Linked DNA regions of Homo sapiens: all the other regions are reported to be linked to region 4. The links are microRNA targets in miRTarBase. Many come from high-throughput screens and were not tested one by one. Region 4 holds a microRNA gene; each other region holds the end of a gene's coding sequence.

Region 1 (5,670 bases), not on the chromosome of region 4:
ATCTTCTATAGCATGGTGGCCACAGCTCTCCTGCGCCATGTGGCTGTGGCCCGGCCTGACCTGGCCTTCCCAGCCGGCTGGGGCACCCTCTTGCTGCTCTGTGGGGCCATGTGGGCCCTGGGCCTTACAGAATCCCTGCCCAACTGGCTGTTCCAGAGGGTGGCAGTGGAGGAGGAGACAGCGGGGGCTCCCAAGACCCAGGCCTGCCTCTTGCTCCTGAGCCCTGCTGGGACCTCCTGCTACATCAGCCTGCTGGGAGCCCTGGCCTTCCTGCCATGCACGCTGGGGCTGGGCTGCTCTTTCAGCCACGTGGGCTGGCTCCTGTGGACCCAGCCCCAAGGTCCCATGGGAGAGAGCATCCAGGAGCATTAAGAGAACATAGGGCTCAGCCTTGTGGTGCTGGTGGTTTTTGTGCTGATGTGGGGGCCCTGCTCCATGCTGGGTTATGTGGCAGCCATGGGCTACCTGCCTGCCACACCGGCTGCTTTTGTGGCCTCCAGCCTCTGCACCATCCTGGCCTACTCCAATTGCGCTGTCAGCCCTATCCTCTGCTTCTACCTCTCCCGCCCCTTCCAGGCAGGACTCAGGGACCTCTTCTGCAGGCCGATGATGGCCAGGCATCCCAGAGGTGTGGGAGTGGCAGCCTCAGTGGTGGCGACTGTCCAGCCTGGCCGTGACAGGGCCTCAGGAGGCCTGTGGGGCCTGGCGGGGGTCTAAGAGTATAGGCTGATGGATGCGCTGAGATTCAAGGGAGATGGGAAGACCCTTAGGGACCTGACAGCCCATCCCCTCTATTTTACCAGTGGAGAGACTGAGACCCAGAGGGCAGATGGCCCAAACAAGGTCACAAAGCAACTAAATGGCTCAGCTAGAGCTCACATCTCTAGGTAACCAGATGGATCCTCCCACTCCACTTTCAGGCTCAGATCTCTGTAGGCTCCACTGCTCTCTAATTGTGTGATCTTGAGCCTCTGTGTCTCAGTGTTCTCATCTGGAAAATGGGATGATGACAGTACATACCTTCTTCACAGGGTTGTTATGAAGATGAATTTGCTAAACACATGTAAAGTGCTTAGAAGGATGCTTAGTAAGTGCATATGCGTGCTGGTCATTGCTACTATTATTATTTTATTTGTATTAATTCAGGGGTATTTGAGGTGAGTGGACAAGAGGAGGACAGAGGGGCTTCCAAAGGCAGAGAAGTGGGTGGAGAATGATCTGGGGGGTAACAGCCTAGGGTCCTTAATCCTGAAGGCCAGGAGATTGAGTAGGGGGAGCAGAGGGCCAGCCACAGCCTGGGGGGTGAGCTCAGAGGCAGGACAGCCTTTCCCCTCTCTGCCCACCCCTCCAGCTCTGTTCCACACACCCCTCAGTCCAATAGGGGGACAAAAATCCAGTCAACCATGCAGCCATGACTCCGGGACTGTGAATGTCTGAAGCCCTCCTTTCTTCCCTGTGGCTTCTCTTCCTGAAGCACCTGGGGCAGGGATCCCTTTCAGAGCCCTTTTCTTCTCTCCAGAGCCCAATTTGAGGTTTCCATTTTTCCCACCCTCAGTGCCCTCCCTCTGGCCTGCTCAGGGCAGGCTTCAGGCTTCCATGTTGGCCTGGAAACCCGGGAGATTGTCTCTACTGAAATTCCCAAGACAGCACGTTCTGCTTGGTGACGGTGTTACCAGCAAAACACACATACACACACTGACTCTGTGATACAAAGCTTGAGAAACGTTGGGTTGAACCAAATCATACTGGTCCCTTTGCTGTAGGACTTACCAGAGCCTTGAATACCCAAAAGGCCACTGAGACTCTCGAGAGGGACGCACAGCAGGCAGGTTCCCAAACTCCATGCCAGAGAGCCAGTATTCTGTGGAACACACCTTGGGAAAGAATCCACAAGATGCTACGGTGTTGGGCACAGCAAAGATGCTCTTGGTGTCCCGTCCCGCCCCCGGCAGTGGCTCTGTGCCTCAGTCCCCCTGCCAGGCAAGCACCCTCTCCTGACACTTTCCCACGGCCCCTGTGGTGAGGTGACATGAGCTGCTGGTTATGGGAACTTCCCTCCTTCCAAGCTGTGACCCCACCCTGTTCCCACTCAAAGCATATCAGAATGTAAGTCACAGGGGCATGTAATTATAGGGACAGCCGTGAATCAGCACCCATTTACTATAAAATCATAAGAAGTAAACAAGTCCCAAACTTTGGTATAATTAGTTCCAAATTTCTTGTGATGTTCAGGGTGGGAATGGCTGCCTGGAGGGCTAATCTGGGAACAAACTTGCCCAGAGAAGGGAGAAATCCCCTTTTGCTATGATCCTGGTCCCTGATGGCCACAGGGATTTATATGTGAAGAGGAACAAGAGGAAAACAGTGTTTCTTGGGCACCTAAAATGCCATGGGTCCTGGGCGCATGTCACATATGTCACATGCAACCTTATGTACTCGTCACTCTGGCCACACGATGACCCTGCAAGGATGGGGGTGGTGGTGACGACCCCATTGCACAGGGGATGCCAGACTCCTCCTCATGGCACAGTGACTCTGGTGCCCACAGATTACCCAGCCCCTCCTGATGGCTTGGCATCAGTACCCCATGGTTGTAGTATTTCCTCGCTCACTGCCCCAGAGCAGGGGCACCCCTGAGGGTGCAATTCTGTGTGTGCATCTCCAGCATGGTCTCCAATACGTGAGTGGGGCCTGGCACTCATGTTTGGTAAATACTTGTTGAGAGATGAGTGAATGAGTGATCAAATGCAATAAAGCAATCCGTTTATTTTAGAGGAAATTCTGATGATGTTACTCACTTCTCTCACCTCCTCAATGGCTTCCCGTTTCACTCAGTAAATGCCAAAGGCCTCATCATGGCCTATGCGGCCTGTGCATTCTGGCCTCTTCACCTCTCCGACCCCATCTCTAGCACTTTCCCTTCCTGCACTCAGCTCCAGCCACACTGGCCTCGCTCTCCTGCAAATGCACCAAGGAAGCTCCTACCACAGGGCCTTTGCGCCTGCTGGTCCCTCTACTTAGAGCTCCCTTCCCCAGATATCAGCGTGGCTCCCTGTCTTACTTCCTGGGGGCTCACCTCAACCATGACCTCCTCTGAGAGGCCCTCTCTGACCACCTCATCGAAAACATCACCCTCCTTCTCCCTCATGTGTCTTTAGAACTCTTGCTACCACCTGAAATGATGTTACTAGCCTATTTGTTGATGTGTTTGCTGGGTCTCTCCCATATTATCTGTGTGTGTGTTGTAAGCCCTGTGCAGGGACAGGGTCTGTGCTTTGTTCATGGCTGCATCCTCAATGCCTAGCACAGAGCGTGGCACGTGGCCTTTGATTGTAAATCTCACTGAAGCAAACAATTGAAGGAAGCCACAGAGGAGAACTGGACCCTGTCAAGCAGCAACGTCAGTGCTATTTTTCAGAGAAGAAAGAAAAACTTCGTGCTTTACTAAAAGAACCAAATTTACTTCAGTTTAAGGCAAATTCCACACAGAGACTGTCTCAGAGACGGGCACAGAACCAGACACCGTAGAAACACCACCACCATGCATGACGGGGAAGCAGAGGCAGGCGGAAGACGGGGGCCTGGCCTGCACCAGGCACGGAGAGGTCAGTGGGCTGAGGAGCTCCATGCGGCAACAGGGATTGGCATGCATGATCTGCTCCCCGAGTGGGCAAAGGCTGGGCAGCTGGGTGGGCCCGGGAGGGAGATCCCCTTCTTCCCCACCTTTCCCACAGCAGGGGCAGGAGCTCGGGCTCAGATGCCAGAGCCCCAGGCTGAAGGACTAGGGTATGTTTGGGGTGATGGGATGAGACAGGGTGACCCAAAAGCCAAGGCGGCCTCAAGTAGGGTCACATCTGTTAGGAGTAGGATGGGGGGAACTGGGCATGGGATGAATGACCCTCAGGATGTCAGACCTAAAGGAAAACCTGGGGCCATCTGGTCAACCCTCTTGTGGTACAGACATGGAAACTGAGGCCCAAAAGGTAGAAGGGCCTTGCTTGGGTTCCCACATTAGGCAGTGGGGGGAGGCAGGGCTCAAACCCAGGACTCCTGTCTCCTAGCCTCATGGGATACAGGGCAAAGAGCAGGAGCAGTGTGGGAACGTGGGGCTGAGCCACTCCTTACTCAGGCCTCCAGATGGGCAGAGGCGTGGGCACCGAGGGCCCTGGGAAGCCTCTGGAGGGAGGAAGGGATTCCTGAAGCCAGGAGTCAACCATGGAAGTACCTGTGGGCCCACACCAGGGAGAGGCCTCCACAGGCCATCTGTGTGTCTAGAACTTGCATCGTACTGAGTTCGAGAGGCACCAGAAAGGGCTCTGTGCTGAGCAGCCTCCACTTCAGGCCCATCACATGGCCTACGGTCCATGATTACAGCACCCCATGGGGTCCCCGGGGCTCCCAGCGCATCCAGTGTCCCTGGGAGGGTGCACATGTTCAGGCCTTCCTGCAAACCCATCAGCTTCATGGGGTTCACTGGAAATCGGGCACAGGATAGACCACAGGGCGGGGCTCAGGGACAGGAGTAGACACCATGGGAGGATGGGACGGAGATGGGGGGCTGGAGGAGGCCAAGCCCAGGCTTCAGGGTGACAGGTAAGCAAATAGGATTGCCGGGGGTGGGCGACAGGGACCCCAATCACCCTTATTGTTTACACCTTCCTGGCTGGGTTAGAGCCAGGTATTGGGGAAGAAGAGAAGGGCTGGGTCCCTGTGTACCCCTCTTTCACCCGTACCCCCCTAACTCCCTGGGTTTGGGCAATAAGTGAGGCCAAGAAATTGAGGAGGGGTCTTCAGAAGCCCCACCCCCTGGCAGCCTCCCAGGCACACAGATGTCCCAAAGGCCGGGCAGGCCAACTTCGGGGAGTCTGGGGCCCTGGCCTCCCATTCACCTGGCCTCTCCCAGGCCCCAGCCACCTGCCTGCTGAGACCAGGTTCAGATGTGCGTGTGCAGGGGGGACGCAGGGGGCGTGCGGGCTGGGGACTGCGAGGGCGAGTGGGTTGGTGCTGCGGGTGGGGGACGCGGGCGAATGCCCTGTGCCTTCATGTAGGACACCAGTTGGTCAGGGATCTCTGCCAGCACGTCTCGGGCCAGGCGGGCCATGCTCAGCACGTGGTTGCCTGTGCGGTCCACGTAGTCCCGGAAGGGTACAAACTGGCAAGTGGGAGGGCAGGGTCAGGCAGTGCCTCCTGTGGGACCCTGGCCCCCAAAATCTCCAGGCCTGGGGTTGCATCCCCACCCCCCTCCCAGCCTCTGCTCACTTGACTCAATCCCCCCACCTTTCTGAATTACCTGAGGGACTGTATCCCTCAACTCCCTGGGTTTGGGCAGTCAGTAACTATAGTCATAGTCACTATTCTTTCATTCACTCGACAAAAACTGAGCCCTATTCCACACCAGGACACACCACTGAACACGATTTCTCCACCTCGGCACTAAGCACAGGCTCTGAGTAGGTGCTTCCGAAATGCCAACTGAATCCCTGACTTCTGGGGCACGTGCCCTCCTGGGTTTCCCCCGACCTGTCCAGCAGAGCCCTCTCTCTCTGGCCTCTCTTCGTTCCTTTTCTCTCTGGGGCTAATCTGGCCAATGCCTAATGCCAGGCCCATCTGGCTTCTTCCCGGGGGTGCCCTCCATCCTGAGCGCCTCTTCTGGCTCACTCCTGCCTCCAG
Region 2 (5,647 bases), not on the chromosome of region 4:
AAGAGGCATCTCACACACATCCGGACCAGAGGAGAATCATGAGCTGACGGCCTCTGAGCTGAGACAGCAGCAGGAAGAGACCTCTGGGTGGCTTGAGTGGGGGGTGGCGAGCATATTTCACTTGTGGAAGGAAAGTAAGTCACTGTGGCTCCAGAGTGGACTGTGGGAAATATCGGACGGTCCCAGGACACGCGGCTCTCTCTGCCCAGCCCTGGGGCTCCGTTGTCACGTGGGGATGCCCCTCACCACTTTTTTTCTATGAAACCCCATTTACAAGATTCCACTTCTTCCTTTTTTTTTTTTTTTTAAGACGGAGTCTTGCTTTGTCACCAGGCTGGAGTGCAGTGGTGTGATCTTGGCTCACCGCAACCTCCGCCTCCCGGGTTCCAGCGATTCTCCTGCCTCAGCCTCCTGAGTAGTGGGGACTACAGACACGCGCCATCACACCCAGCTAATTTTTGTATTTTTTAGTAGAGGCGGGGTTTCACCATATTGGACAGGCTGGTCTCGAACTCCTGACCTCATGATCCACCTGCCTCAGCCTCCCAAAGTGCTGGGATTACAGCACAGTGGCCAGCCCCTTCTTCCTCTTTCTTGGTTTGCTCCCTTGATTTGGAGCTCCTCCTTTAGTAGGCTCCTGAAAACATGTATTTTGAAAATGAATTTTTAAAAGTAAGAGTTTGCATATCTGAAAATGTTGTCATACTGTCACACTTGACTGACCACTTGGGTAGGTATAAAGTTCTAGGTTGGAAATTATTTTCACTTGTAATTTTCGAAGCATTGTTCTGTCATTTTCTAACTTCCAGTCTGCCCTTGGGAAGGGATTTATTCCTCAGCCTGTGTGTGTGATCTGCGCTTTCAGATCGTCTCTATGTCCTGGACTGTCTGATGTTTCACGTCATGCCTGGATGTAGGTCGTTCCTTCCATCTTTGTGCGAGATATCGGTAGGTGCTTTTACTCTGGAGATTCATGTTTCTCGGTTCTGGGGGAAAATTATTTCTCTAATAACTTCATTCCCACCATTTTCTGTTTTTGTTTTCCCCTCCTTGGAATTCCTGTTAGTCTTAATCTTTCTATCCTGTCACCCACCTTCTTGTCTTTTCATTCTTTCAAACAGATTTTCTCCACTTTCCACCTTCTTGCTAATTTAATTTTGCCCATTACATTTCCATCTCTAAGACATTTTTATTATTTTTTTATTTTTTTCGAGGTGGAGTCTCACTGAGCCTGAGTGACACCCAGGCTGGGAGTCAGCGGTGTGATCTTGGCTCAGTGCAGCCTCCGCCTCTCAGGTTGAGTAACGCCCAGGCTGGAGTTGGCGGTGCGATCTTGGCTCACTGCAACCTCTGCCTCCCAGGTTGAGTGAAGTCCAGGCTGGAGTACGGTGGCGCAATCTCGGCTCACTGCAGCATCTGCCTGCCAGGTTCAAGCGATTCTCGTGCCTCAACCTCCCAAGTAGCTGGGATTACAGGCGCAGACCACCACACTTGGCTAATTTTTGTATTATTAATAGAGATGGAGTTTTGTCATGTTGGCCAGGCTGGTCTCGAACTCCTGACTTCAAGTGATCCGCCCGTCTCTGCCTCCCGAAGTGTTGGGATTACAGGGGTGAGCGACCATGCCTGGCCCATCATTATTTTTGAGTTTCCTTTTTAAAACAATGTTCTGGACTTCATATGGCACCTGAGCTTGCCTTTCTTCCCCTGGTTGACTCACGCCTCCCTCCTGTCTGTCTTCATGTGTGTGACTCTGGGTCACAGATTTTCCTCCTAATCTTTATGTGTGTTTGTGTGTATGACAGTCTCACTCTGTCACACAGGCTGGAGAGCAGTGGCGCAATCTTGGCTCACTGCAACCTCCGCCTCCCAGGTTCAAACCATTCTCCTGTCTCAGCCTCCCGAGTAGCTGAGATTACAGGCATGCACCACCACAACTGGCTGATTTTTGTATTTTTAGTAGAGACGGGGTTTCACCATGTTGGCCAGGCTGGTCTCAAACCCCTGACCTCAGGTGATCCACCCACCACGGCCTCCCAAAGTGCTGGGATTACAGGCATGAGCCACTGCACCCAGTCCTAACCTTTACCTGTCAACCGGCAATTCTATACAGCTTACTGTCGTTAGGGACATATTTAGTTTTGTTTCCACCATCTTAATTTGCCCAGTTTGTTTCTGATTTTTTTTTCTTTTTTGAGAGAGGGTCTCACTCTTTTGCCCAGGCTGGAGTGTAGTGGTATGACTACAGCTCACTGCAGTCTCGAGCTCCCAGGCTCAGGTGATCCTCCCACCTCAGCCTCCTGGGTGGCTGGAACTATAGGCTTACTTACTGTATTTTTTGTAGAGACAGGTTCTCCCTATGTTGCCCAGGCTGGTTTCGAACTCCTGGGCTTAAGCGATCCACCCACCTTGGCCTCCAAAGTGCTGGGATTACAGGTGTGAGCCACAGCGCTCAGGCCCAGCCTGATTTCGTTCTTATTTTTTAATTGACAGAAGTTTGTGTTCAGTTCATTTATTTATTTTATGGGCTCTCACTGTGTTGTCCAGTCTGGAGTGCAGCGGCACAATCGTAGCTCACTGCTGCCTCAAACTCCTGGTCTGAGGATCCAAGCCGAGATCCTCCTGCCTCAGTCTCCCAAGCAGCTGGGACTACATTTTAAATCACAGTGTTTTATTCTTTTTATTGGATTAGAGATGTATAGACTGGTTACACTCTTTTAGTAATTAACATTAAATTACACTATGCACATTTAACTTATCAAAGTCAAATTAAACACTATCTTACACCCTCTTCCCAACAACCGGAGGGTCTTAGAACATTTCTGTCCCTTCTAATTTACATGCTATTGTTGTCTAGTATTTTAGTTGACACTATTCTTTTATATATACATATGTATTCATATTTATAATTTTATTTGCTTGCCATTCCATCTTATATCTAAGACCATCACTCGGCTCATTTTCCTTTATTTATTTATTTTTTTAAGATGGAGTTTTGCTCTTTTTGCCCAGGCTGGAGTGCAATGGCGTGATCTCGGCTCACTGCATCTTCTGCCTCCCAGGTTCAAGGGATTCTCCTGCCTCAGCTGCCCGAGTAGCTGGGATTACAGGTGTGGGCCACCATGCCCAGCTAATTTTGTATTTTTAGTAGAAATGGGGTTTTGCCATGTTGGCCAGGGTGGTCTCAAACTCCTGACCTCAGGTGATCCACTGCCTCAGCCTCCCAAAGTGCTGGAATTACAGGCGTGAGCCACCGTGCCCAGCCCTATGTTGCCTAGGCTGGTCTTGAACTCCTAGGCTCAAGTGATCCTCCCCCTTAGGCCTCCCAAAGTGTTGGGATTATAGGCATGAACCACTGCACCTGGCCTGTTTTTCATTTCCAAAAGTTCTTTAAGGAGTCCTGCCTATTCATGCGTGACAGTATGTACCCTACAGCTTTCTCATCACTGACTGCGCGACTTCTTTGAACACCTCACACATAACTATCCTCTCACCTGTATGATGACAGTTTCAGGATCTGCGTTTCTTTGTGGCTGACAGCGGCTGCCTGCTGTTTCTGTTGGCCCTCAGTCAGCTGACTCTCCTTGTGTGCTTGGGGATCTTTGCAAGCTGAATGCCTGACTTACGAGCAGGAATGAGGCTAAGCCAGGTAAGCTTCCTTCAGGGAGCAGGTGCTTTGACCGCTACTGGTACCTGAGGATCTTGGCTCAGCATGGGAGACACAGGCTCATCTTCCCACCTCACCACCGGCCCAGGGGTCAGGAGCTTAATTAACGGTGGGGCCACCAAATCCATTCTGAGACCACCCCTGCCCCTACAGGCTGCACAACCCTAAGCTCATGCATTTTAACAAAATCGGTGCCAAGAGCCCTCAAAGCGACTGTCTTGGAAGCGGCAGCCAGCTCAGGACCCAGAATTCTTCCCAATTAGTCCTTACCTGGGCAGAGAACTGCAGGAGGTGGTCACAAGCCACACCCAGACCAGGATGGGCGAATCCTGCAACCGCACCCCAGGGGCTCACGGCCAGTAGGCGGCTCACATTTCCCTGTCATCCCAAGAAACTCAAAGCCCACCTCGCTTAATTCATGATGACAGAGCTTTACTATACGCCCCCAAAAACGCTCCCCAAAGAGACACTTCTACTTTTCTATCTAGAAAATAACATTTTAAAAAATGAAAATATTTTACAGGAAATAACATTTGTACATACTCATAACAGTCTCAAAGAGAAAACGATTCCTCTACCCACAGAACGCTTCTGAAATCACATGTGTGTAAGCCTTTCCCTCCACACCAACCAGCTCTCCAACTCCCTCTCAGACACCAACGCGATGTCCTACAATTTAACTCGATTCTGTCACCAATTGCCCGGAGCTAGTGCAGAACCCACAGGGTAAGGGGTCAGTCCCACAAGACCACCCCGACTTCAGATGCCAAGTGCAGACGGTGGGCCCCGGGGACCCCACGACCCCCTTCTCAGGTTCCAATTTTTTTTTTGAGATGGGTCTCTCTGTCGCCCAGGCTAAAGTACAGTGCCCAGATCTCCGCTCACTGCAACCTCCGCCTCCCAGGTTCAAGTGATTCTCCTGCCCCAGGCTCCCAAGTAGCTGAGATTACAGGCGCACGCCACCACGCCCAATTAATTTTTTGTATTTTTAGTCGAGATGGGGGTTTTGCCATGTTGGCCAGGATGGTCTTGATCTCTTGACCGTGTGATCCGCCCGCCTCGGCCTCCCAAAGTGCTAGGATTACAGGCGGGAGCCACCGCACCCGGCCAAGTTCCATAATTTTCTAAGCACACAGAAGTCGGGACCATATGAACCGGCTGTGAAAAGGCGTTGAAATACATGGATGAACCACCGACCCGCAAGGTACGGGGGAGGACGCGAGGCTTCCATGCCCTGTCTGGGCGCCCCCTTCCTAACTGCCCCCCCACCCCGCCTTCACCAACCCGAAGCCCGAGGCCCTCATCTCATGCAGGGTTTTGATGGAGGCCTGGTTGCGGAGGAATGACCGATTCAATCACCGGCCACTGCCCCGCAGCAGCTGACCGTGGGAGGCGGGGAGTCTCAGAGGCGGGCGGCCGGCCCGGGACAGACCCCTGAGACCTCCCCGCCTCTGGGAATCGCCTCCCGCGGGCAGCGCTCGCCTTCCCCGAGCCCTGTCTCTCCTGATTGCTCCCAAGCCAAGGCGGATGCAGGCCTGGCGAGGCTTTCGCAACCCGAGAACCAGGCGCGCAGCCGGCTGTTACTTCCTCACCGCGCACGGGGCGGACAGGAGCCTCCCCCGGCCTCGGCCTCGCGCCCACCAGGCCGCCGGCATCTCTTCCGCCGCAGCCCCGGCTCACTCGGCGCCATGCACCCGCCGGTGCTGGATGAGGTGGAAGCTCAGGCGGAAGGCGCGGCCGCACTCGGTGCAGCGGAACGGCTTCTCGCCCGTGTGGAGTCGCTGGTGCCGGAAGAAGCCCGACAGCGCCCGGAACGCGCGCCCGCAGTGGCCGCACTGGTGGGGCTTCTCCCCGGTGTGGATGCGGCGGTGCTCGCGGAGGAAGGAGCTGCGGCTGAAGGCGCGGCCGCAGTCCTGGCAGGCGAAGGGCCGCTCCCCCGTGTGCACGCGCTGGTGCTGGAGGAGGTTGGAGCTCTGGCTG
Region 3 (5,000 bases), not on the chromosome of region 4:
AAAATATCTTTAGTTCATTCAGAGTTGTACAAGCAGAACCACGATCAATTTTACAATATTTCATCACCTCACAAGGAAACCCTGTGCCCATTAACGGTCACTTCCCACTTCTAATGTGTTTACTATGAGCTTAAAGGGCTTCCATACAAGCTTCCCAGTAAGCAACTGGTAGGTACTAAATATTTGTATAATGAATGAATGACACTACAAATGATACCTACATTTTTCTCTAGTCATCTCTTCTGAACTCCAAACCTTCATTTCTAACTGCTTGCTAGGTATCTCCACATGTATATCCAACAGCATCTCAAACCTAACAATGTCCAAAATCCAGATTATTATCTTCCTTACCAAACCTGTTCTTCTTGTATTACCTATTTCAATGATCGCCCAATCTTCCTCCCACTCAGCTGCAAATTCTAGGTCTTTAAATCTCTCTCATTCTCCATTTTTAAATAATTCCCGTGATTCTCTGTTCCCAGAATGTTCTCTGTTCCCTACTGTAATGCCCTGTTTAGGTCTCTCAGTAACTTTCTACTATACTATTAAAACAGGCCTCTAACTGGTCACCCCGCGTTTAAAATTCCTCTTTCCAATACATCCTTTATGCAGCCATTCAAGTTATCTTTCCAAAACAAAGAAATGCTTATGTCACTTCTACTCAAAGTTCAGTGCCTCGGAAAAATTGTCATAGCCCTAAAGGTAAACCCCTTCGTTTACAGAAAAACTCCCCAGAGCTAGAGATTCAGCAACTTGCCAAAAATTAGACATCTACTTAGATGCAAAACGTAAAAAACTAGAACTTAAAACTTCTGACTGCTACTTTAGTTGTCTTTTACTCTGCACCACACTAAGAAAAAACCAAGTGCAATTTCTCACTCCCTAACAAAATGCCCGACTTTATTTCCAAATGTTTTTTATTTATTGCAAATATGCTGCGTTGACCTTCGTTCCAACCTAAGTACTAATTCTTAAGTCCCAAGTTAATAATATTTAACTTCCAAATGGTGCCTAAATGCATTTCTGAGCCTCATGATCAAGTGGGATAAACTTTAATAAATTGGATTATCTTGAGAAACTTCAGAAAATAAATTCGACACGAAATGTATGAAGGCCGTAAACAATCCACACACTCCTGCCCCCCGAACTGACAGGCAAAGGAGAAACGGGCGACCCAGCCCAGCCGAGTAGGCAGCTGTCCCTTTTCCAAACCCAGAAAGTAAGTGGTATGAAAGGAGAGGGTAGCTCTGGACTGAAACATTCAGGGCAAGGCCTCCTGGCATCCTCTACCCCACACCACAAAGGCCTCAGAAATAAGGCCCCAAGGTCCGTAGGCAGGCCCCGGCTGCGGGTGCAGTCCAAGAGCCCCCGCCCCGGGGACTCGCTGACTCTGGCTTTCTCAGGACAGTCTGTTCCTATATCCCTACCCCCAAAACCAAGCAAAGGAGCAAGAACATCGCCCCTAAAAACCCGCGAGGGGAAGGGCCAAAGCCGCAGGGCTTCAGACTGGCCGCTCCCGGGCCCGCCAGATCCAGGAGGGATGCCCAAGGAGGGCGGTTTCCTCTCTCGGGGCGAACTCGGCCCCAGGCCCCAAGTAGCCGGTACTGGCCCCCGCCCTCTCGGGTACTACCTAACCGAGGAGGGGTGGCCAGGCCCACCTCGGAGCTCACCTTCCAGTTCCGGGAAGCCGGCCGGCCGTCAGTCGGTCCCGAATTCCGTCCACACACAGCGTCTTCCGGCTCCCGCCGGAAGCAGCTCGAGCGCGGGACAGGAAGTTTGGCTGACCCCCCACGCACACACCCACTCGCTCGCCTCAGTGTCGTGTGGCTGCCGCACTGCTCGGGACCCAGACGTCAAGGGTGCTGGCGGGGCCTCCCCAGGCCCGCGACGCAGGGCTCCGCCCCGGACAGGAGGAGCCGCAGCCGCCCCGCTCCCACTCACTCACTCACTCTCGGCCTTCGGGACTCCTATGTCCGCGAAGCCCGAAAAAACAGGTCAGCTAATTCGTTGACGTCACTGCCACCCCGCAGTAGCGGAGGGAGTAGTTTTTCCCATCAGCGGAGGCGTTGCAATGGAGGCAAACGCGAAAGAAAAGATCACTGCTTAAACATTTATCAAAGGTCTCCATGGAGAGGACCTTCGAAGTTTCACCGCCCGAGAAAGGAACTTGCAGAATCAAGTTTTGCATTATATACGGGACGGGGTATGCAGTGAGTCTGGGTTCCGTGTTGTAATTAGGATGTAAAGAGCTCTTGGATGTCCCGACTGCGGGCTTGAACACTTGACTTCCAAGCTGGATGCCACCTTGTTAAAGCTTTGTGAGTTTGACTGACTTCTTGAAATTACTTATTTTAAAATATTTGCGTGCGGAAGAATGAGAGACTCAACCGTGGGAATTAAAGGAGTTCTCTTTAAAAAGGCATTTTCAAGGTTAAAGATAAGCCTTGATGACAGGTTTGGGTACACAAATTACTAATGGTGATTTAAAATAAAGGAGAAACATTTCAGAGGAAGATAATTCCACTTTAGAAAAGCAGAGTAGGCCGGACTCCGTGGCTCACGCCTTTAATCCCAGCACTTTGGGAGGCTAAGGTGGGCGGATCACGAGGTCAGGAGATCGAGACCATCCTGGGTAACGCCGTGAAAACCCGTCTCTACTAAAAACACAAAAATTAGCCGGGCGTGGTGGCACGCGCCTGTAATCCTAGCTACTCGGGAGGCTGAGGCAGGAGAATCGCTTGAACCCGGGAGGCGGAGGTTGCAGTGAGCCGAGATCGTGCCGCTGCACGCCGGGCGACTGAGCAAGACTCCATCTCAAAAAAGAAAAGAAAAGAAAAAAGCAGAGTATAAGATGCAATCCAGAGTTGAGGATATTTACTTGGAGGTAAAGGTCCAGTGCTCAAGAAAGAGGTCAGAAATACAGATGGAGATTTGGGAGTTAGCAACATACAGAGAAAAGTGAAACCCCCTCAGGCGATGAAATGGTCCAGGAAAAGTAACAAAAAAGGGCCACTCACGAAAACTGGGGAGGCTGATTACCAACACAGTTTGAATCTACTTATTACAAATGTTGCATACAAAAGTATATTGGCAGTGTGTAGACAATCATAAGCCAAAACATTCAGAAACAATAATCTTCAGTTTTACTGTTCTGCGAGGGTTGAGTACAATTAATAAAACAAACTTTTGAGGTACATCAGTAGTTCCTGAACATTCATGTTTACAAACATTTGTTAATTTGCCCAGTCCTGTCATTTTCTGAAACTGTCTTTGTTGTCAATCTGTTTTTGTTTTTTGAGATGGAATTTCACTCTTGTCGCCCAGGCTGGAGTGCAATGGTGCAAGCTCAGCTCACGGCAACCTCCCCCTCCCAGGTTCAAATGATTCTCCAGCCTCAGCCTCCTGAGTAGCTGGGATTACAGGCGTGTGCCACCACGCCCAGCTAATTTTTGTATTTTTAGAGAGATGGGGTTTCACCGTGTTGGCCAGGCTGGTCTTGAACTCCTGACCTCAAGTGATCTGCCCGCCTCTGCCTCCCAAAGTGCTAGGATTACAGGCTTGAGACATCAGGCCCGGCTGTCAATCTTTTTAATCACCTACAAGTGATGTTTACATCTGTTTGCCCTCTCAATCTTTACAACTTGACAGTATGTGCCTGCTAACCTAAAATAAACATATGCTTTTCTCAATATATATGGAGTTTTTAGGCTATACAGTAAATTATTTGGCAAATACAAAGAGATGATCCTCTGGAGTAAATCTTGTCAACTTAACCAACCTAAGTTATTTATCTTCCCATACTAATCCCAACCCAAAACCGCTGGTCTCCTATCCCAAAAACTGTTACACAAGCTCCGAAACCCCCAATCCTGCCCCCAGTCCCTATGTACACATCATACCATTAAGTCTCTTTTCAGTCTACAATGTGAAAAAAAGGCCATCTCAATTCTATTTTTACACCAAGTTTCAGTTTAAGAATCATGTAAAACATTTCCAGTTCAACAAATCTTTACTCAGTGCCTCTCAAGCATTCTATTTTATTTTAAGCATTCTATTTTAAATTAATAAAAGTTATTAATATTAATTTTAAAAAACCTATTGTGTATGATTCATTAATGGTTGTATCAGATCATGTAAAACGTTTCCAGTTTAACAAATCTTTACAAAGTGCCTCTCAAGCGTTCTATTTTAAATTAATAAAAGTAATTACTAAAAGTTATTAATTTTTAAAAACCTATTGTGTATGATCCATTAATGATTGTATCAAATACCCTATGCAACTAAAAATAACACCTATGATCACATTTAAATCAAGAGCTATGTATAGTCTAAGGATTTTTTAACATATCTTTGAAAATATGCAAAATGGAAAAGAAATCTATGATTGCCTTGATGACATTTACAGCAATTACAAAGAGATTTCTTCTGAAATGCAAACTATCTGCTTTCCAATGTTACCTCCTGTCATCATGGACTGGAATGCAGCTGGAAAAAGAGAAAGTAGGTTATCTGAAAAGATAAATGTCACTATCATACTTGTTTCCAAAAGGTACAACATATAAAATTATGTTAAATAACTTTTTCAATGATTTTGAATATTAAGCATAGAAGAAAATGGTCATGAAAAGAAATCTCAAGTAAAAAGTTACACACAAACTAACCCAATTAACATCTTAAAAAAATGTTTTGCCCATACTGGAAAGATTTAATTGGTATCTAACTGGTATGCACATCAATGTTCATTGTTTACAGTATCTGAAGACTAGAGGCAAAAAAAAATGGGAATAAAATGTGAGTGAAGGCCGGGCATGGGGCCTCACGACTGTAATCCCAGCACTTTGGGAGGCCAAGGTGGGTGGATCACTTGAAGTCAGGAGTTTAAGACCAGCCTGACCAACATGGTGAAACCCCATCTCTACTAAAAATACAAAAATCAGCTGGGAGTGGTGGTGTGTGCCTGTAGTCCCAGCTACTCGGGGGGCTAAGGTGGGAGCATCACC
Region 4 (5,000 bases):
TTTAAAAATTAGCCAGACATGGTGGTGTATACCTGTAGTCCCAGCAATTTGTGGGGCTGTGGTGGGAAGATTGCTTGAATCTAAGAGATCAAGGCTGCAGTAAGCTCTGATTGCACCACTGCACTCCATCCTGGAGTACAGAATGAGACCCTGTCTCAAAATCAACAACAATAAAAAAAGGTGGGAGGGGGCTGGGCATGGTGGCTCACACCTGTAATCCCAACACTATTGGGAGGCTGAGGTGGGCAGATCACCTGAGGTCAGGAGTTTGAGAACAGCCTGGCCAACATGGTGAAACCCCATCTCTACAAAAAGTACAAAAATTAGCTGGGTGTGGTGGCGGGCACATGCAGTCCCAGGTACTCAGAAGGGCTGAGGTAGGAAAATCGCTTGAATCCAGGAGGCGGAGGTTGCAGTGAGCGGAGACTGTGCCATTGCATTCCAGCCTGGGCAACATGAGCAAGACTCCAGTCTGGGCAACAAGAGCAAGAGCATTTTAAGCTAGCAGACCCACATGAGAAGAGATGGGATGGGCTAGGTAGGTTTTTTCAGTCAGTGCTGGTAGATAGGCCAGGAAGCCTTGGGTTGGTGGGTAGGATCAGTCAGGGGCTCCTTGAAAGAGGATACTCCTGCCTCTGCCTGATTCTGGTCTCTGCTCAGGTCCTCCACCTTCTGGGCCCCAAGTTGGAGGCTGATCTGGAGAAGAAGTTCAAGGTAGGGATGGGCATGGCCCTGAGTCCCTGAGGGTGAGGTGAGGTATGGTGAGACTTCAGGCTGGGGAAGGAAGTGTCTGACCACAGGGATCCCAAGACCCTATCCAAGAGAAAATTTGATGCCATTTTCTGAAGCACCTGGGGCTTCTTTCAGGTGGCAAAAGCTCGGCTAGAAGAAACAGACCGGAGGACGGCAAAGGATGTGGTGGAGAATGGTGAGAAGCTTGAGACTCCTGTCACAGCATTCAGCTCCCTGACTTCTGAACCTCCTCAGAAGAGTCCTTACAGGCTCCTCAGGCCCTTGGCTTACTCAGTACCCTGACTTCTGTCTCAAGACTGGGATTCCTGGTGTTTCTTTTGTTCCCTTTGCCCAGAGACTGGCATGAGAGGCCTCAGATGTCTGGCTCTAGATATCTTGTCTCTGGAATTGAGGGAATAGGGGTCTACTCAGTTCTGTTCTGGCTGTAGGATATGGTAAATGTATCTAGAGGACAAGTTTTCCTTGTTTTGTTCCCCACAGGCGAGACTGCTGACCAGACCCTGTCTCTGATGGAGCAGCTCCGGGGGGAGGCCCTTAAGTTCCACAAGCCTGGTTAGTGGGCATGTCAAAACCCTGGGGAGGGCTGGATCTTGGCAGCAGCTCCTATAGTCAGGCCCCTGGGGTCAGAGGCTTTGGCTGCAGCCTGGTCCTTAGGCTTATTCTGGTCCTGGCAGGTGAGAACTACAAGACCCCAGGCTATGTGGTCACTCCACACACCATGAATCTACTAAAGCAGCACCTGGAGATTACTGGTGGGCAGGTGTGTGGGGATGTGGCCATGTGAGCTTGTGCCATCAAACACCTGCCTGAGTGCCTGGGCTGCGTCCATACTGCCCCATCTCACCCATCACCATGGCCTTCCTGGGAGGGAACATCTGTTTCTTTAAGGTCATCTGAGCTCAGACTTTATTTCTCTTTTCCCATCCCCCTTATTTTAGGTACGTACCCGGTTCCCGCCAGAACCCAATGGAATCCTGCATATTGGACATGCCAAAGCCATCAATTTCAACTTTGGCTATGCCAAGGTAAGCATGTGTCTAGGGACCTGGCAAGCAAGATGACCACTTGCTGTTCCCATGAGTGGATACCATATCCCTGCCTTGCTGTCTGCTCCCAATAATGTACCCAGGTGGGCAGAGGCCATGGAAAGGAACCACATGTGTGACAGATACCTAGGAATCTATTGAGCTTATTGGAATAAATAGCTCCCTCCCTCTGAGGAGTCAGTGAGTTCAAATTTGGGGGAGTTGCCAGTGCAGTCCCTAGGCTTAGAAAGATGCTAGGTTAGATACAGGAAGGTGAGAGAAGCTCTTGAAGACATTTTTAATTCTGACATGAGTCCGGGTTGGGTGGCTCACGCCTGTAATCTCAACACTTCGGGAGGCTAAAGTGGGTGGATCACTTGAGGTCAGGAGTTCGAAACCAATCTGGCCAACATGGTGAAACCCCATCTCTACTAAAAATACAAAAGTTAGCTGGCCATGGTGGCACACGCTTGTAGTTTCAGCTACTGGGAAGCTGAGGCAGGAGAAACCCAGGAGGTGGAGGCTGCAGTGAGCCAAGATGGTGCAAGATAATCAAGACTCCATCTCAAAAAAAAAGAAAATTCTGACATGAGAGTGCTCTGTGAATATCCTAGTTTGATAAACAGGATTGTGGGGCTGATGGATGATGTGGGAGTTCACAGATGGTGCAACTTTCCTAGGCCAACAATGGCATCTGTTTTCTGCGTTTTGATGACACCAACCCTGAGAAGGAGGAAGCAAAGTTCTTCACGGCCATCTGTGACATGGTAGCCTGGCTAGGTATGGACTAGGCAAAGCCTAGAAGGGCTGGTGGTTAGTGGGCCTCTCCTTGGGCCATGGCCTGCCCACTGGGTGTTTGTGGCTGGCTGCTCATACTTTGTTTCATTTTGCCCCAGGCTACACACCTTACAAAGTCACATATGCGTCTGACTATTTTGACCAGCTATATGCGTGGGCTGTGGAGCTCATCCGCAGGTAAGGCCAGGGCCATGACGTAGAGCCAGGCAGACTGACTAGGTCACAGCCATGCTGGGCACTCACACCGCTTCCCCACAGGGGTCTGGCTTATGTGTGCCACCAGCGAGGAGAGGAGCTCAAAGGCCATAATACTCTGCCTTCACCCTGGAGAGACCGTCCCATGGAGGAGTCACTGCTGCTCTTTGAGGTGGGGTCCTAGAGGAGCATCTGGGTTTGGGTGGGCCAAGGTGCTGAGAATGAGATGCTCCTGTGCTTAGAGACAGCCTGAGTCCTTGTTCCCCTCAGGCAATGCGCAAGGGCAAGTTTTCAGAGGGCGAGGCCACACTACGGATGAAGCTGGTGATGGAGGATGGCAAGATGGACCCTGTAGCCTATCGAGTCAAGTATACACCACACCACCGCACAGGGGACAAATGGTGGGTGTAGAATGGGGTGGGGTGGTGGGGCTGCCGAGCAGGGCGATGGGCCATGGGGTAGGGCAGAGTAGGGCTGGATGGTAGGGCCCACTGCCTATGCCCCACAGGTGCATCTATCCCACCTACGACTACACACACTGCCTCTGTGACTCCATCGAGCACATCACTCACTCACTCTGCACCAAGGAATTCCAGGCCCGGTGAGGGAGCTGGGTCCATGGGGTGGTAGGGCCAGTGGAATTCCAGCAGCCCTTCCTGTGGTCTCTGCCTGGTTCCAGAGCTGGCCAGTGCTAACCCTACTCTCCCACCCCAGACGCTCTTCCTACTTCTGGCTTTGCAATGCACTGGACGTCTATTGCCCTGTGCAGTGGGAGTATGGCCGCCTCAACCTGCACTATGCTGTTGTCTCTAAGAGGAAGATCCTCCAGCTTGTAGCAACTGGTGCTGTGCGGTAGGTGCGGCTGTTTGGCTTATGAAAGGTTAATGGCATATGCTCCCAAAGGCCTTCTCACCACCTTCTTATCCACAGGGACTGGGATGACCCACGGCTCTTTACACTCACGGCCCTGCGACGGCGGGGCTTCCCACCTGAGGCCATCAACAACTTCTGTGCCCGGGTATAGCCCAGCAGGTTGGGTAGATACATTGGGGGTTGAGTGTGGCAGTTTGTGATTGTAGCTGTGACTGATGCTGAACTTTCCTGCCAGGTGGGAGTGACTGTGGCACAAACCACAATGGAGCCACATCTTCTAGAAGCCTGTGTGCGTGATGTGCTGAATGACACAGCCCCACGAGCCATGGCTGTGCTGGAGTCACTACGGGTCATCATCACCAACTTTCCTGCTGCCAAGGTGGGCCTGCCTCAACATGTGTGTCACATGTGTGTGTGTAGCTGGGGGTACACTTGGCTCTGGGCATGGGGGTCCTAATGCTGAGTATGACTCATACCTGTCTCCTGTCTCCTGCTATAGTCCTTGGACATCCAGGTGCCCAACTTCCCAGCTGATGAGACCAAAGGCTTCCATCAGGTTCCCTTTGCACCCATTGTCTTCATTGAGAGGACTGACTTCAAGGAGGTAAATTGTGGGGGTGGAGGGTCCCGTTTGCTGCTGAGTCTGGTACTGGGAACCTTTCATCTCCTCATCTCTGTCAGTCCATCTACTTCCTGCTTCAGATGAACCAATCTTTGCCAGACACGGGGGTAGGGAAGCTTCCCCACTTGTTTGACCCTTGCAGCCTCATGTGTCTACCCCACTTCCTATCTCTAGGAGCCAGAGCCAGGATTTAAGCGCCTGGCTTGGGGCCAGCCTGTGGGCCTGAGGCATACAGGCTACGTCATTGAGCTGCAGCATGTTGTCAAGGTGAGAGCCAGCTGCAGCCTTCCTACTGCAGTGCCTGCTGGGGCCAAGATGTGAGTATAGCCTGCAGTCCTGGTTGTGGTTCCCGGGTCTAATTGCTGCTCCCCTCCCCCCACTTCCAGGGCCCCAGTGGTTGTGTAGAGAGTCTGGAGGTGACCTGCAGACGGGCAGATGCTGGAGAGAAGCCAAAGGCCTTTATTCACTGGGTGTCACAGCCTTTGATGTGTGAGGTTCGCCTCTATGAGCGACTGTGAGTGAACAGAGCTGGGGTGGGGGCAGGTACAAGATGCACATTGCCTGCTATGGCTGCCCAGCTGGGGGTATGACCTTCACTTTGGCTGCAGATTCCAGCACAAGAACCCTGAAGATCCTACTGAGGTGCCTGGTGGATTTTTAAGTGACCTGAACCTGGTAGGTTCATGAGGTTTGGGGTGAGGGAGGTAGGCCTCCCTGGTTGGATGGTTGCCTGA

The links. Region 4 holds the annotated microRNA hsa-miR-6890-5p (CAUGGGGUAGGGCAGAGUAGG, at 3,224-3,244, shown strand). A microRNA usually pairs through its seed, bases 2 to 8, with sites in the 3' UTR of a target mRNA and lowers its output. Matches are read on the target gene's strand: a 7mer-m8 pairs with bases 2 to 8, a 7mer-A1 pairs with bases 2 to 7 and ends in A, and an 8mer does both.
Region 1: miRTarBase lists CPNE5 as a target of hsa-miR-6890-5p. Seed matches in the 3' UTR shown: 7mer-m8 at 4,464-4,470 and 7mer-m8 at 4,381-4,387.
Region 2: the mRNA of ZNF696 is a reported target of hsa-miR-6890-5p. Seed matches in the 3' UTR shown: 7mer-m8 at 3,154-3,160.
Region 3: miRTarBase lists PTGR2 as a target of hsa-miR-6890-5p. Seed matches in the 3' UTR shown: 7mer-m8 at 3,466-3,472.

The regions. Positions count from the first base shown.
Region 1 is chr6:36,737,335-36,743,004 of GRCh38, forward strand. CPNE5 (copine 5) reads right to left here. Exons shown (of 21, transcript NM_020939.2): 21 at 3,441-5,152. The coding sequence ends at 4,934. It also overlaps the pseudogene GPR166P. Among named protein-coding and RNA genes, the nearest start is that of RAB44, 42 kb to the left of the region's middle.
Region 2 is chr8:143,296,497-143,302,143 of GRCh38, reverse strand. ZNF696 (zinc finger protein 696) reads right to left here. Exons shown (of 3, transcript NM_030895.3): 3 at 2,192-5,647. The coding sequence ends at 5,344. It overlaps LOC124902037 (a long non-coding RNA gene), which reads left to right. Exons shown (of 3, transcript XR_007061139.1): 2 at 1-134; 3 at 311-759. Among named protein-coding and RNA genes, the nearest start is that of ZNF696, 7.9 kb to the right of the region's middle.
Region 3 is chr14:73,883,586-73,888,585 of GRCh38, reverse strand. It overlaps PTGR2 (prostaglandin reductase 2), which reads right to left. Exons shown (of 10, transcript NM_001146154.2): 10 at 2,860-4,485. The coding sequence ends at 4,409. It overlaps ZNF410 (zinc finger protein 410), which reads right to left and starts at 1,727. Exons shown (of 12, transcript NM_021188.3): 1 at 1,671-1,727. RefSeq lists enhancers at 1,668-1,737, 3,369-3,478 and a silencer at 1,788-2,067.
Region 4 is chr3:49,098,133-49,103,132 of GRCh38, reverse strand. MIR6890 (microRNA 6890) reads left to right here and starts at 3,219; the gene lies at 3,219-3,279. It overlaps QARS1 (glutaminyl-tRNA synthetase 1), which reads left to right. Exons shown (of 24, transcript NM_005051.3): 6 at 661-714; 7 at 868-928; 8 at 1,234-1,305; 9 at 1,428-1,513; 10 at 1,692-1,778; 11 at 2,459-2,558; 12 at 2,675-2,753; 13 at 2,835-2,943; 14 at 3,042-3,172; 15 at 3,280-3,372; 16 at 3,486-3,623; 17 at 3,702-3,789; 18 at 3,880-4,023; 19 at 4,144-4,248; 3 more. RefSeq lists an enhancer at 2,279-2,779.